Linked DNA regions of Homo sapiens. The protein of the gene in region 1 purifies or fractionates together with the protein of each later gene. This does not show direct contact. Each region holds a gene or a part of one and is shown on either strand. Other genes may lie near its edges.

The links. The genes of interacting proteins can lie anywhere in the genome.
Region 2: the proteins of DTWD2 (region 1) and CELSR2 purify together in Homo sapiens (affinity purification with mass spectrometry; 3 studies listed by BioGRID and IntAct, with this or other methods). This does not show direct contact.

What each region holds. Positions count from the first base shown.
Region 1 is NC_000005.10:118,841,881-118,845,629, reverse strand, and holds part of DTWD2 (tRNA-uridine aminocarboxypropyltransferase 2), read left to right. Parts: intron 1-3,749.
Region 2 is NC_000001.11:109,247,792-109,251,540, forward strand, and holds the start of CELSR2 (cadherin EGF LAG seven-pass G-type receptor 2 precursor), read left to right. Parts: upstream 1-1,747; 5' UTR 1,748-2,288; coding exon 2,289-3,749. UniProt on the Homo sapiens protein: Receptor that may have an important role in cell/cell signaling during nervous system formation.

The DNA of each region.
Region 1 (3,749 bases):
TACTGCAGTGGCCAGGAGTAGAAAAAGGATATTTGACAGTCAAACCTGGGATTTGGGAGGTACTGATAACATGGTGGGAGAGTGAGCAGAAGAAATACATAATAAAACATCTCAAGTTGCTTATTATTACAGATGGCAAAAATTGCTTCCAGCCACAATTTATAGTGAAAGCTGTTTTCTTAGTGGGGGAACCCCACATCCAGCCTTTTCAAATCTAGTTATGAGAAAAAAATTAGCATCTAGTTGCGATAATAAATTAGCATCTTTGTGAAATGCAGTATCAGTCTGCCCTAAACATAGGTGTTTTCTTTCCCTCCTGGGGAGGAAAGTGATGACATACACTTTTTCCCAATAACCTTTTATCAGGGGCATTCTAATAAAACCTTAAGATGGTGGGGGAGAATAGTAAATTTTCTTTTTCTTTTTCCTCTTTTCTTTGCTTCACTTTCCTTCACTTTTCTTTTTCTTTTTTCTTTTTCTTTTCCAACAGAGTCTTGCTCTGTCACCCAGGCTGGAGTGCAGTGGCATGATCTTGATTCACTGCAACTTCTGCCTCCTGGGTTTAAGTGATCCTCCCACCTCAGCCTCCCAAGTAGCTGGGACTACAGGTGCATACCACCATGCCCAGCTAATTTTTGTATTTTTTGTAGAGATGGGAGAGGCGGGGGGAGTCTCAAGTTGCCCAGATTGGTCTTGAACTCCTAGGGGATTTAAGCGATCCACCTGCCTTCGCCTGCCAAAATGTTGGAATTACAGGTCTGAGCTACTGTGCCTGCCAGAGAAGAGTAAATTTTCACTTGGCTTCATTCTATAGAGGCAGGGTTCCTCAAAATAAAGAACTTGGCACAGAATAGCTTTGTTAATCTGTTGTCTCATCCTCACTCTTTATTCTAGAGCAGTTTTTCAAGCACCTGAAAGCATGGCTACATGAAAGTAGCACAATGTGGATTTTGAAGTAGTTTTGAATTACAACTTATTATCATCACTTTTTGCAAGTGGGCAGACCACATAATTTTTTGTACTTGTGTTCTTATCTGTAATATACAAAATGTTACCTCATAGTATTTCAAGAACTGAGATAATAATGAGTAATCGCCACAGTTGTCAACACAGGCACTCAAAAAGAGTTAATCCTCTTGCCCCTCTTTTCCTCTCTAATTTTTGCCTGTAGATTGGCAAAAGAAAGTCTGAACTAAAAGATAGTGGCTTTCATTAGCTACTACAGTATTTACCAGGACTTTTCATACCTTGGAAGCCTTTAGCTTGGGGTTCTTTTTTATTACAGAACCTTTTCTACTTACGAAGTTTTATCATAGGAATTTTTAAAGATAGATGTGGCAAAACCTCCTGCTATAACCTGAATGTTTTGGCTCTACCCAATATCTGCAGTTGGTAGTAATGGTTCCTTGAAAACTGTCACTTTTCACATGCAGCAAAAAGGATTTACTAGGATAGGCTACAACTTTAAAACTCTGAAGTTGAAATCAGATAAGATGACAAAAGTTTATGCATCTCTCATGCTGTTTGTCCAGTGGGATTACCCTGAGGACCTCTGCTGATTTGCAGTCACTCAGGCACCCAACCTGATGGAGGAACTATCTAGATAATTCATCCCACTTTCATCAAGGAAGGAGCAAGGAAGGTGGTGTATCCTATACCACTTTTAATGCTTCTGCCCTAAGGTGACACGTATTAGTTGTACTCACATTTCATTAACCAAAGCAAGTTATATGGCTGTGCCTAAATTTGAAAAGGGATAGAAAATGCCAATCTGCTCATGTATCAGGAAGGAGGCTGGCCTATTTGTGAACAGCTGTAGGGAGTACCAACAGAGATGGAGTAGGGATCTAATCCAGATCTGCCTGTTTCCAAAATTCATTCTCTTCATTACCTCAGTAAATTGATAGAATCTTATCTTCAGGATGTAAAAGTTGGAATCTTTTGACCATAAGAATATGAGTTTTCTTCTGTTTACAAGAATATAATAAATGTCATAAAATATCAATAGAATCTTCAGTTGTCTTGGTCTGTATGTCATCCTAGGTATGTTTCCTGGGTTCAGTGTTTCAGAATACAGTCCACTGTGGTGACTCTGTAAAGTACGTAAAGTCATATATAGTTATTTTAGCATTCCCTCTCTTATTTTCCTCATTAAAATAAATTACGGGAACATGCATAAGGAGTTTTCTACAATAATATTGTGCAGAGCCTTTCCAAGATATTTACCTTTTTTCTTTCTATCTCTCTCCTTCCTTCCTCCCTTCCTCCCTTCCTCCCTCCCTGCCTCCCTCCCTCCCTCGCTTCCTTCCTTTTCCCTTCCCTTTCCCTTCCTTTCCCTTCCTTCCTTTTCTTTCTTTTCTTTCATTTCTATTCTGGGCCGGATGCGGTGGCTCACACCTGTAATCCCAGCACTTTGGGAGGCCGAGGCAGGTGGATCACGAGGTCAGGAGTTCGAGACCAGCCTGGCCAATATGGTGAAACCCCGTCTCTACTAAAAATACAAAAATAAGCTGGGCATGGTGGCATGCACCTATAGTCCCAGCTACTTGGGAGGCTGAGGCAGAAGAATCACTTGAACCCAGGAGGCGGAGGTTGCAGTGAGCTGAGATTGTGCCACTGCACTCCAGCCTGGGTGACAGAACAAGACTCCATCTCAAAAAAAAAAAAAAAAAAAAAGAGGAAGAAGAAAGTTTCTCATTCTGTCACCAAGGCTGGAGTGCAGTGGTATGATCGTGGCTCACTGCCGCCTTGACCTCCCAGGCTCAAGCGATCCTCCTGCCTCAGCCTCCCGAGTAGCTGGGACCACAGGTGCACACCACCATGTCTGGCTAATTTTTTCTATTTTCTTTTTTTTTTTTTAATAGAAACAGGGTCTTGCCATGTTGCCTGGGCTGGTCTCAAACTGCTGGGCTCAAGCAATCCTCCTGCATCAGCCTCCCAAAATGCTGGGATTACAGATGTGGGGGTGTATATTACAGTAAGGAATTATATTTGCCTGCATGTAAGAGAGCCCTTACTGCAGTGGTTAATTCACATGGGGTTTTCTTTTTCTCCTGTAAATCAGAAATGCTGAGGTGGGCAGTCCTGACTGGGAATGCAGCTTGAAAAAGAATTCAGGGACAAGTTTTCTTTTCTTTCTGTCCATCATCTTTTGTATTTGGCTTTAATCTTCATGTTTGTTGCCTAGTAGTCACATGATGCTTGTCCTACCTTCAACAGTTATTTTCTAGGCAGGAAAAAAGGACAAAAACCTATGCCTGCTAAGTTTGTCCCCTTTAAAGAGTATCTCTAGAAGCCCCATCCAAGGACTTCTAGTTACATCTTCTTGGATAGATTGGGTCATTAGTGAATGTAATATTAGTAGCTGGACACATTGCTACCTTGAATATAATTTGAATTATTTTAATAAGGGAGAAAATAATACGAAGAAGCAACTACTAGTGACTATCACAATAAATAAATTTAATTTCATTATAAATTAAAGCTATTAAGCCCTTTTTCTACCACTTATGTTGTGCATCAGCCTCCCAAAATGCTGGGATTACAGATGTGAGAGTGTGTATTATAGTTAGGAATGATATTTGGCCGCATGTAAGAGAACCCTTACTACATTTGTTAATTCATGTGGGGTTTTCTTTGTGGGTTAATACATTTTCACGTAGACATTGTGAATTTTTTGTAGTTAAATCTATCAGTTTTTTCTTTGTTTCTTTTGTGCTCCTTTAACAATCTGTTTAATTAAGTTTTTT
Region 2 (3,749 bases), on another chromosome or scaffold:
GCCCACGCAGCCCCTAGATCCTTCCAAACTCCAGAGTCTGAGGAAGTCTAGAGAGGCAGAGCCCTGCGGAGGCGTGTAACCCACGCCTCCATCTCCAGAGCTGCCCTTGGCCTTGCTCAGAGGAAGAAAGCTCCTGTTTGGTCAAAGGGGAGGGCATTTCCTTGAGCCATGGGTCCTCCTCCTACTTCTATCCATCCTGCCAGGAGCACAGTCTAACCCTAATCTTTCTTGCTGTACCCAAGGCCCATCTCCTTTCCTGTTTCCCCAGGGGAAAAGAGAAAAGCTGATTTCTCATCCTTGGCCTCACTGTGTGGTCACACAGACACTCCTTGGGCCTGGGGCTGGGGGATCCTCTGCTGTGACCCAGTGAGAGTGGCACCACTGTGACCGGGGGCAGTGGTAGAAGGGAGCACCTGATCCAGTGCTTTTCAGATGGGTTCCTCCAGACCCTCAAGTTGCACAGAGCAGCCCAGGGATTTCTTGGTTGGGGGAGTGGTGGAGAGGGGCAAGGCCCTGACCCCCTCACTTCAACCCAGCAGCACTACTCATCTGTTCTATATTCTGGCCTTCCACTTCAGATTTCTTTTGAAGAAAAGAATTCTACTGCTAAATAAACATTTGAGAACCATTCACCTTATTCAATCCCCTCATTTTACAAAAAGGGACATTGAGGCACAGAATTTGAGCAAGGTCACATAGCTGTGGTGTTGGAGGCTGGGACCCAGGCCCAGGCATCCCCCCAGGCCAGGGCATCCCCCCAGGGACTACCTGACTGGGCCCCTGGCTGCTCCAGGATGTAGGGAAGCCTTTTCTGGGTCGCCTGCACGGCTCCTGCCTGGCTCTCCGTGTGGTCCAGCTTCATGTCTGGTCCTCTTGGAGAACCCCTGGAATCCTGCACACCCTCTCAAATGAAGCTGCCTTGGAGAGGGTCAGGAGCCCGGGTACCAGGTAGGCCTCCTCGCTGGTCACAAAACTGTGGCGGAAGGAGGGGGTAGCCGCAGGACATGGACAGGGAGGCAGGAGGGGATGAGAGGCCGCCTCTCTAGACAGGACCTCAGGGGGCAGTGTAAGCCCCTTGTCTAGAATCCAGGAAGCCTGTGTTAAAGCTAGGCTCCACCGCAGCCGGCCTCCGAATCTGGTGACAGTGTGTTTGCACCACCTGGCTTCCACCCACTCTGACCCTTCTAATTTACTTCCCTGGAAAAGCCCAAGTGGTGTCCAACATGAGGCTGGGGTCATTCTTCCAACAGCCCGACCCCAAGGGGCATGCTGGTCAGACAACAGCCTCGCTGGTGGGGTGGAGGGGACGGTAGGGAGCGAGTGGGCCCGGTGACTCATTGTGGGTGCTTCTCTGGGATTTTGGAGGCTTTGTTGTGTTGCTCAGGGCCCTTTTAACTCTGTCTGACCTATGGGAGGGGACAGCAACGAGGGCTTTTATGACTGGAATGAACTGGAAACTTGGCCTCTGAGAGCCCTTAAAATGTTTTGGAAACCTCTAGGCATACTTAGGGTACTTCCACCATGATTATCATCGGCTGTGTGGCTTCCGATCGCTAATTCGCACCGGGCATCTGGCGAGGCCGGCCTGGGGAAATTGGGATGGAGGGTCCTGCTGGAGGGAATCCTGGCGCTTTGGGCGGAGGAGTGCTCTGGGTGGGGCCCACCTCCTCCAGCGCGGCCGGCGTTGCCGCTTTAAGGCGGCCGCGGCGCGAGCAGGTCTATGGTAATGAGCCGCCGCCGCGACTCTGCAGAGCTCGCCCGCCCGCCGGGGAGGCGAGGGAGCGCGGGGCTGGGCCCGGGGCCGCGGCGACAGGCAGCAGCCGCGGCGGGGACGCGGGGCGCGAGCGGGCGGCGCGGGACCGTCGGGGGCCGCCGGGGCCGGGCCGGGGTCGGGGCGCACGGCTACGCGGGCGCAGGTGGGCGATCCCATAGGGGCGGAGGGGGCACCCCGGCTCCGGAACCCGGGGCCCGGCAAGGCCAGGGGCGCCGCGGGGCCCCCGGGCGCAGGTGGTGAGTGCCCGGAGCGCAGGTGGAGGCGCGGCGGCAGCCCGCGGTGCTCAGGGTGACCCGGGAGCGGGTCTGGCTCAGGGGGCAGTGGGAGCCCGGGCTCGTCGGAGGGTGCAGCGCGGGGTCCCGCCGAGCCATCCAGACGCAGGCCCCGCGGGGCGCACGGGAGGCCCCCGGGGACTGGCGCCCTGGCCCGGGCATGAGGCGCGGCGGGGCCGGCAGGAGCCGGAGGAGGAGCCGCCGCCGCCGTTGACCCGGCCGCCGGCCGGGAGCTGGGAGAGATGCGGAGCCCGGCCACCGGCGTCCCCCTCCCAACGCCGCCGCCGCCGCTGCTGCTGCTGTTGCTGCTGCTGCTGCCGCCGCCACTATTGGGAGACCAAGTGGGGCCCTGTCGTTCCTTGGGGTCCAGGGGACGAGGCTCTTCGGGGGCCTGCGCCCCCATGGGCTGGCTCTGTCCATCCTCAGCGTCGAACCTCTGGCTCTACACCAGCCGCTGCAGGGATGCGGGCACTGAGCTGACTGGCCACCTGGTACCCCACCACGATGGCCTGAGGGTTTGGTGTCCAGAATCCGAGGCCCATATTCCCCTACCACCAGCTCCTGAAGGCTGCCCCTGGAGCTGTCGCCTCCTGGGCATTGGAGGCCACCTTTCCCCACAGGGCAAGCTCACACTGCCCGAGGAGCACCCGTGCTTAAAGGCTCCACGGCTCAGATGCCAGTCCTGCAAGCTGGCACAGGCCCCCGGGCTCAGGGCAGGGGAAAGGTCACCAGAAGAGTCCCTGGGTGGGCGTCGGAAAAGGAATGTAAATACAGCCCCCCAGTTCCAGCCCCCCAGCTACCAGGCCACAGTGCCGGAGAACCAGCCAGCAGGCACCCCTGTTGCATCCCTGAGGGCCATCGACCCGGACGAGGGTGAGGCAGGTCGACTGGAGTACACCATGGATGCCCTCTTTGATAGCCGCTCCAACCAGTTCTTCTCCCTGGACCCAGTCACTGGTGCAGTAACCACAGCCGAGGAGCTGGATCGTGAGACCAAGAGCACCCACGTCTTCAGGGTCACGGCGCAGGACCACGGCATGCCCCGACGAAGTGCCCTGGCTACACTCACCATCTTGGTTACTGACACCAATGACCATGACCCTGTGTTCGAGCAGCAGGAGTACAAGGAGAGCCTCAGGGAGAACCTGGAGGTTGGCTATGAGGTGCTCACTGTCAGGGCCACGGATGGTGATGCCCCTCCCAATGCCAATATTCTGTACCGCCTGCTGGAGGGGTCTGGGGGCAGCCCCTCTGAAGTCTTTGAGATCGACCCTCGCTCTGGGGTGATCCGAACCCGTGGCCCTGTGGATCGGGAAGAGGTGGAATCCTACCAGCTGACGGTAGAGGCAAGTGACCAGGGTCGGGACCCGGGTCCTCGGAGTACCACAGCCGCTGTTTTCCTTTCTGTGGAGGATGACAATGATAATGCCCCCCAGTTTAGTGAGAAGCGCTATGTGGTCCAGGTGAGGGAGGATGTGACTCCAGGGGCCCCAGTACTCCGAGTCACAGCCTCGGATCGAGACAAGGGGAGCAATGCCGTGGTGCACTATAGCATCATGAGTGGCAATGCTCGGGGACAGTTTTATCTGGATGCCCAGACTGGAGCTCTGGATGTGGTGAGCCCTCTTGACTATGAGACGACCAAGGAGTACACCCTACGGGTGCGAGCACAGGATGGTGGCCGTCCCCCACTCTCTAATGTC